Linked DNA regions of Homo sapiens: region 1 is linked to region 2. Evidence: fine-mapped expression QTL. A gene starts in region 2. The other region holds a variant in brackets. All regions are shown on one strand. Distances are from middle to middle.

What was found. PIP is the estimated chance that this variant, and not a neighbour inherited with it, causes the effect. A credible set is the group of variants that fine-mapping cannot tell apart.
Region 1: its variant is the best candidate, but not a certain one, in a credible set for the expression of COQ4 in whole blood (TOPMed, PIP 0.51).

The regions. Positions count from the first base shown.
Region 1 is chr9:128,237,359-128,241,878 of GRCh38, reverse strand. It overlaps DNM1 (dynamin 1), which reads right to left. Exons shown (of 22, transcript NM_004408.4): 12 at 2,364-2,434; 13 at 2,100-2,151; 14 at 1,883-1,894. Among named protein-coding and RNA genes, the nearest start is that of MIR199B, 5.2 kb to the left of the region's middle. The variant C/T (reference allele first, on the strand shown) is at 2,073.
Region 2 is chr9:128,320,845-128,324,844 of GRCh38, reverse strand. It overlaps COQ4 (coenzyme Q4), which reads right to left and starts at 2,006. Exons shown (of 7, transcript NM_016035.5): 1 at 1,917-2,006; 2 at 1,698-1,829. The coding sequence starts at 1,986. It overlaps TRUB2 (TruB pseudouridine synthase family member 2), which reads left to right and starts at 2,398. Exons shown (of 8, transcript NM_015679.3): 1 at 2,398-2,545; 2 at 3,115-3,246. The coding sequence starts at 2,437. RefSeq lists a silencer at 1,719-1,778 and an enhancer at 2,159-2,698.

The sequences.
Region 1 (4,520 bases), 83 kb after region 2:
CATCTGTTCTGAGATGTGTTTCTGACTTTACACATGCTGCTGCCGCCTCTGCCTAGAAAGCACTTTTTCCTTTTTGCCTGGCAAATTCCTACTCAGCCTTTGAGTATCAGCTCAGGATTCACATTCTCAGGCAGCCCCTTCCTGTCCCCCAGTATAAATCAGGATTCCCATAATGATCTTTGATCACTCCCTGAAGTCGACTTCTGTAACAAGGGCTTCGATTTTTAATTAACTTCTCTACGTGCGTGTGTGTGATTATCTGTCGATGCAGCCTCCCCTGCTAAATCATGAACTGTTGGTCACTAGTACATCCCAGCACCTTGCAGAGGGCCTGGCAGATAGTAAGTGATCAATACATATTTGTAGTATGAATAAATAAAAGCTATGATAGTACGGTTCTAAGGGTCTTTGGCTCCAGGTCCCCAGGGGCAAGGGCTGAGCCACAAAGTGCCTAGAGTAACAAGCTAAGGTCCCTTTTCATGGCAGGAAGCAGCTGTCCCCAGGACTGTCCAGAGCCATGGCCACGGTCCAGGGCCTGTGGATTCTACTTCAGGGGTAGGGTCACTGGCCAGGTACTGGTCATGGGTCAGATCGAGAGGATGAGGCAGCTGCTTCTGCTCCCTCCTGGACGCTGACCTCCCCAGCTTCTTCTCTGAGCATCCAGAGAAGACCCAAGGAGGCCTGGGGCTGGCGGCAAAGCCCTCTGGGGCCAGGCTTGCTTCTGGAGCCCTCCTTATGCCTCTCTGGTTCCCTGAGAACCTCGCTGAGAACCCAAGCTGCACAGCCCAGCAGCAGTTGAGCTGAGGGGAGAACACCAGCTGCCTCTCTCACCCCTTCCTGATCAGGCGAGGATCCCCACAGGGTCTTGTCACTGTCTTTGGAATTGAGTCCACTGTGTCCCACGATGTGACCAGCAGATCTTGCCACCTGCTCCCCACCCTAACTTGTAGTCTTTGTCCTCCCCCTTGGCCACACCCAGCCCTGAACTCCTCTCTGCTCATCCTAAGCCCTCTCTGCAGCCCTGCACCAGGGACCTCCTGCTCTCCCAACTCCCACCCTGCATGGAGCTCTCAGGGGCCTTAGCTGGGCCCTACCAGCAGGCCCAGGTCTCCACGTCCTGTCCAGGGGCCAGCACCGTGTAGGCACCAGCTAGTGTTGGCTGAATTGAATTGTCCTGATACTACATTCATTCCTCCCTTCATTCTGTTGAGCACCTACTGCGTGCCAGGCTAGGGGCTTGAGCTGAGGATTTAATGATAAACGGGACAGACTCAGCCCTCCCCTTATGGGGCCTGGGAAGGAAATAGACATTAAGCCAATAATCACATAAACACCTAGAGTCTTACAAAGAAACTACGGCCTCTGGAACCTATGGAAAGAAAAGCTGAGGACCCTCGGGCTCATGTGTACAACTGAGCAAGCGCTTCTGACGAGGGATGTTTCCGCAGACATCTAAGGACAGAGAGCAGGAGGCCAGGTGAGCAGTGACTTCTTGACTTCTCTTGACTTCTCATTCGTCTCTTCATTCAAGTCCGGAGGCGATGGCTGTCAGCTTCTTAAAAATGTGTCTTGCTCACGTGCATCCCTCCATCCAGCAGATGTTTAAGGAGCACCTACTCCGTGCCAGGCCCAGCCTTCTCACCCACCCAGCCCCACACGGTCTAGCTCTGCCTGAAGTAGGTGCTTGGCTCGTGCACACAGATGGACGGGTGGATGCGGCTGGGCCTGCCTCTGGCCTGAGGGCAGGTGTGAAATGCCAGGGGCTGGTGTGTACAAGCAGCTTCAGCCAAAGGGTGCCCTCCTACCCGTTGCAGATCCCCACTGCCGATGGACCCTCCGCCCCCTCACTACACAAGCCGAGAGCCCCAGTCCTGGTACTCACCAGAATCTCATCCTGCAAAGAGGTAACCATAGCAACCACGAGAGGCATCGGGGAGAGAGGAGAGAGGGTTACTGAGGCAGAGTGGGAGGCTTGTGGCTGGCAGCTGACAGGTCCCTGGCCCCCGTGGGACCCTTCCCCTCAGGGGAGGGGGCTCTCAGAGTCTGGTGTCCGTCCGGCACCCTCCATCCCT[C/T]GGGCTGGGGTGCTGGGCCCCACTCACCTGGTTCCCTGAAGTCTTCTTCTTGTTCATCTGGTTGCTCCTCTGCTGAGCACTAATGGGAGGGAGGGGAGGAGTCTCAGAACTTCTCAAGAGGCCCAGCTCTACTGCCCACTGCTTAGTGGGCACAGGACCCAGAGGGTTAACCTAGCAGACCTGGGCTCTACACACACACACACACACACACACACACACACACACACACACACACACACGTTACCTTCTCTGCCCAGGGAGCACTCACTTTTTGCCTGGGGGAGCACTCACTTGGCAAAGCCTATGAAGTCCTCATGGTTGGTGTTCATGTAAGCCAGCTCGATATCGATGAGAAGCATGACCTTCAAGGATACATAGGTTGGTGGGCAAGCGCAAAAGACACCACAAAGTTTTAAAATGCAGGGCAAGCTGGGAGAAAAGTACTTGCAGCACATATAGGAGGTTAGTATCCATAATAAATATAGTCCCTACCATCAGTGAAAGACAAAAGCTGAGCGTGGTGGCTCACACCTGTGATCCCAGCACTTTGGGAGGTGGAAGTGGGAGGATTGCTTGAGCCTAGGAGTTCAAGAGCAGCCTGGGCAACATAGGGAGACCTGTCTCTACCAAAAAATACAAAAGGTAGCTAGGCATGGTGGCATGTGCCTGTAGTCCCAGCTACTTGGGAGGCTGAGGAGGGAGGATTGATTGAGCCCAGGAAGTTGAGGCTGCAGTGAGCCAAGATTGCACCACTGCATTCCAGCCTAGAAGACAGAGCAAAACCCTGAGAGAAAAGAAGAGAGGAGAGGAGAGGAGAGGAGAGGATGAAAGAAAGAAAGAAAATCACAAATTGGCCAGGTGCGGTGGCTCACGCCTGTAATCCCAGCACTTTGGGAGGCCGAGGTGGGTGGATCACAAGGTCAGGAGATCGAGACCATCCTGCCTAACACGGTGAAACCCCGTCTCTACTAAAAATACAAAAAATTAGCCGGGCGTGGTGGCGGGCTCCTGTAGTCCCAGCTACTTGGGAGGCTGAGGCAGGAGAATGGTGTGAGCCCAGGAGGCGGAGCTTGCAGTGAGCTGAGATGGCACCACTGCACTCCAGCCTGGATGACAGAGTGAGACTCCACCTCAAAAGAAAAAAAAAAAAAAAGAAAATCACAAATCAAAATAGTCAAGAACATGATGAATAATTCATAGAAGAAATGCATACATCCACTAAGGATGTGTAAAAAATCCTTACTCTCATTAATAAAGAAATGTAAGTTAAAAATGAGGCTTTTAGCCAGGCGCAGTGGCTCATGCCTGTAATCCCAGCACTTTGGGAGGCCGAAGTGGGCGGATCACCTGAGGTCAGGAGTTCGAGACCAGCCTGACCAACATGGAGAAATCCCGTCTCTACTAAAAATACAAAATTAGATGGGCATGGTGGCACATGCCTGTAATCCCAGCTACTTGGGAGGCTGAGGCAGGGGAATCACTTGAACTCAGGAGGTGGAGATTGCAGTGAGCCGAGATTGTGCCATTGCACTCCAGCCTGGGCAACAAGAGCGAAACTCTGTCACAAACAAACAAACAAACAAACAAACAAACAAACAGAGGCTTTTTAAATGATCAGCATGACACAAGTGTTGGGAAATGAGCTCTCTCATATATTGTTGATGGAAGTGTAAATCAGTATCACCTTCTCTGAGGGCAATTTGGCAATATTTAACAACATTAAAATGCACAGGGCAGGGAATGGTGGCTCATGCCTGTAATCCCAGCATTTTGGAAGGCCGAGGCAGGAGGATTGCTTGAACCTAGGAATTCAAAACCAACCTGGGAAACATGGAGAAACCCTGTCTCTACAAAAAATAGAAAAATTAGCCAGGTGTAGTGGTGTACGCCTGTGGTCCCAGCTACTTGGGAAGCTAAGATGGGAGGATCGCTTGAGCCCAGGGATGCAGAGGTTGCAGTGAGCCATAATGGCACCACTGCACTCCAGCCTGGGCGTCAGAGCGAGACCCTATCTCAAAACAAACAAACAAACAAACAATGCACATATTCACTTCCAGAATTGTATCTCACAGATACACTCATCAAGTGAGCAAAGATACATGAGCCAGAGTATTCAAAGTAGTACAGTTTGTAATAGAGAAAAATTGGGAGCAAGCCAGTGGCCATCTGAGGGTGAAATAGATTATGACACTCTCTAGACAAGAAAGCACCCTGCAGCTGTTCAAAAGAACAAGGACAGGCCGGGCGGGGTGGCTCACGCCTGTAATCCCAGCACTTTGGGAGGCCGAGGCAGGTAGATCGCTTGAGGTCACAAGTTCACAAGTTCGAGATCAGCCTGGCCAACATGGTGAAACCCTGTCTCTACAAAAATACAAAAATTAGCCGGGCATGGTGGCATGCACCTGTGGTCCCAGCTACTTGGGAGGCTGAGGCAGGAGAATGGCTTGA
Region 2 (4,000 bases):
TAGGCATCAGAGATGCTGGGCTACAGTCCAGGTGTGTTCACTATCTAGGTGACCTAGTACAAATTGCTTCACATTTCTGTTTTGTTTTGTTTTTTTGAGACAGGGTCTTGCTCTGTTGCCCAGGCTGGAGTGAAGTGGTGTGATCATAGCTCACTGCTAGGACTACAGGCATGCAGCTAGTTTTTTAAATTTTCTGTAGAGATGAGGTCTTGCTATGTTGCCCAGGCTGGTCTTGAACTTTGGCCCCAAGTGATCCTCCCACCTTGGATTCCCAAATTGCTGGGATTACAGGTGTGAGCCACCATGCCTGGCCTGCTTCACATTTTTCAGCCTCAGTGTCTTAATTTGTGAAGTGCAGACAACACCTTTCTTAGCTGGTTAATGTGAGAAACCATGAAAATCATATATATATAACACTTAGTGGCCAAGTGTAGCGGCTGACACCTGTAATCTCAACACTGGGGGGCTGAGGCAGGAGGATCACTTGAGGCCAAGAGTTCCAGAGCAGCCTGGGCAACGTGGCAAGACGCCGTCTCTACAAAAAAATTAAAAAATTCGCTGGTCTTGGCCGGGCGTGGTGGCTCATGCCTGTAATCCCAACACTTTGGGAGGCCGAGGTGGGAGGATCACCTGAAGTCAGGAGTTTGAGACCAGCCTGGGCAACATAGCAAAATCCCGTCTCTACTAAAAATACAACAATTAGCCAGGCCGCACAGGCCTGTAATCCCAGCTACTCAGGAGGCTGAGGCACGAGAATCGCTTGAACCTGGGAGGTGGAAGTTGCATAGAGCTGAGATTGCGCCACTGCACTCCAGCGTGGGCCACAGAGCAATACTGTGTCTCAAAACAAAACAAACAAAAAACCACTGGGGACATGGAGATATAGTGTATTTTTTGTTTAAGACAGGGTCTCGCTCTGTCGCCCAGGCTGGAGTGCAATGGCGCAATCACAACTTACTGCAGTCTCGAACTCCCCGGCTCAAATGGTCCTTCCACCTCAGCCTGGGAATACAGCCGCATGCAACCAGCCCCAATTAATTCTTGTATTTTTTTTTGTAGAGATGGGGATTCACCGTGTTGCCCAGGCTGGTTTCAAACTCCTCAGCTCAAGCCATCTGCCCGCTTCGGCCCCCCGATAGGGATTATAGGCGTGAGCCACTATAATAGCGCCTAGCCTGTTTTTGTTAGTAGGAATAACAGTACTTCCCAGAACTCAAAAATCTAGGAGGCATAAGAAAAACACTGTAGAACCCTAGAATGTTCTAGTCACACATCCAGCAAACATTTATTGAGCATTTACTATGTGCCAGGCACTATCCAGAAGGCTGCAGATGCAGTGGAACGAGGCAGACATGGTCCTCGACCTCGGAGTTGACTTTCTAGTAGGATATTATAAACTGATCGGTACTTATGAATCATCTATTTAGTCTAGATGTTCTCAATATGGCTGCATGACAGATTCTCCCAAGTAGTTTAAAGACAGACTTTCGGTTTCACGCCCATTTCTCCCTCCACTGCAGATTCAGATTCAGATTCAGTGCGTTTAGGTGGGATCCAGGAATCTGCATTTTCATAAACGTTCCGAGTGGTTACGAGCTGCAACCAGGTTTGGGTACCCCGACCTAGGCTATGTTCCAGTTACCCACAGGAAACGGCTCCAAGCCGCCCCCACGGGGGCGAGGCGCGGGCGGCCTTACCGTGGCGGTAGGGGTTATAGAGCGCCATCGCCGCGGAGCCGGCGGCCAACAGCCCTTTCTGCAGCGGGGAGGTGGGGAGGTGGTGCGAGTATAGCGGGCCGGCGCCGTCGCTCCTAGCCCGGAGGGGCATTTCTGCGGGGCAAGAAAAAGGCCGAGGTCAGAGGAGCCGGGCGCCCTCAGGCTCCTTCCCGCCTGCGCCCAGAACCCGGCGCCACTTGCCTGCCGCAGGCCGCTGTAGGCCCGGGAGCCCGCAGAGCCGACGGAGGACAGGGCGCAGCAGAGTCGCCATGGCAGCGGGCGTCCGCGGAGGATGGGCGGGTACGAAGAACGCCGCGATTCTGTCAGGCGACGGAGCGTCGGAGGGGTCAAAACTCACTGAAAAACCGATTCTGACGGCGTAGCCTACGGCCTTTCGAGGGGAAACATCGCTTCACGGGCAGAAGGCATGTAGGCCAAGTAGGCGAAGGAAACGCACGCGAACTGTCTACCGTCTACGTCCACCGATCCAAGACTCTCGCCATGTCACCTCGCCCCAGAAAGTGTCTGCAAAGGACACGCAACCACGCTCACTCAGCGCCGGGCCCTATTTCCTTCTCCACAGCCGGTTTTCCCCGAAGACTATAAAATGCGAACCTCTTCCGGCTGTGGAACATGGCGGCGCCCGTGGAAAGGACCACATTTGGGGGCGGGGCCTGGCGGTACTTCCGTCCAGGTCCAGCGGGTGCTGTGATCTTCAAGTATGGGGTCTGCTGGCTTGTCGCGGCTGCATGGGCTTTTCGCGGTCTATAAGCCCCCGGGGCTAAAATGGAAGCACCTGCGGGATACAGTGGAGCTACAACTTCTGAAGGGTGAGTGCCTCGAACCAGACCCACGTTCCCGCTCTCGTTCTCTTGGAAGTCCATCTCCGCTTCTGGTCCTTACCCCAAAACAAAATCACGTGACCTATTCACCTGGGCAGAGCGCTTTCCCAAACGCCTGTTCTCTGTGCTTTCTTACTCCTCACTTTCCTCTGTTTTCCGAGGGGGAAACTGACTCAGTATTGTTCCTTGTCACACGGTTACTACGTTGTAGAGTCTGTTTGAATCCGCCTGTTTCTTAACTACTGCTATACTGCCCTCTGCACCATGGGCTTCTGCTTTGTCTTCTACATCATACTTCCCTGTTGTCTAATCCCCCAAGTGTTTGGACAGAACAAGATATTCCTGGTCAGCATCGTGGTGCACGCCTGTAATCCCAGCTACTCTGGAGGCTGAGGCAGGAGGATCGCTTGAGCCCAAGAGTTTGACGTTACAGTGAGCTATGATGGCGCCATTGCACTTCAGCCTGGGCTACAGAACGAGGCCCTGTCTCTTAAAAAATATTTTATATGTACATATATTTGTATGTATGTGTGTATATATTATCTCTGTGTGTTCAGGTCTCAATGCCAGGAAGCCTCCCGCTCCTAAACAGCGTGTTCGCTTCTTGCTGGGCCCCATGGAAGGCAGCGAAGAGAAGGAGCTGACCCTCACAGCCACCAGCGTACCCTCTTTCATCAACCATCCACTGGGTAAGGCAGATTTAAGCAGGATCCTGTGTGTCACTTCCCAGGAAATCCCTGAGCCGAGTCAGTGTCCCAGTGCTCAGATTCCTGTGCCAGGCCCTTGAAGGTCCACAGAGGAGTGAGGTATTAGACCAGGAATTGGCAGATTTCCTTGGAAAGGGCCAGATACTGAATGTTTTAGTTTTCAGGCCATGTGATTTCCGTTGGAACTGCTCAACTCTGCCAATGTAGTGCCAAACAGCTATAGACAGTATCTAAAGGAATGAGCCTAGCTGTATTCCAATAGAACTTTATGAATATTCATATTTGAACTTCAGGTAATTTTCACGTGTCACTAAGTACAGTTGCCTCTGAGTCCATGAGTTCCACATCCCATGATCCAGCTTCAGATTGGCAGTATTTGGGAAGAAAAACACAAAGTTCCAAAAAGCAAAACTTGAATTTGCTGTGCACCTAGTACTGTGTTGAATCCACTCAAGGTGATGCATAGGCATTATATTAGGCATTATAAGTAATCTAGCTAGGCGTGGTGGCTCACGCCTGTAATCCCAGCATTTTGAGAGGCCGAGGAGGGTGGATCATGAGGTCAAGAGATCGAGACCATCCTGGCCAACATGGTGAAACCCCGTCTCTACTAAAAATACAAAAATTAGCCGGGAGTGGTGGCAGGCGCCTGTAGTCCCAGTTGCTCAGGAGGCTGAGGCAGGAGAATCACTTGAACCCGGGAGGCGGAGGTTGCAGTGAGCCGAAATTGTGCCAC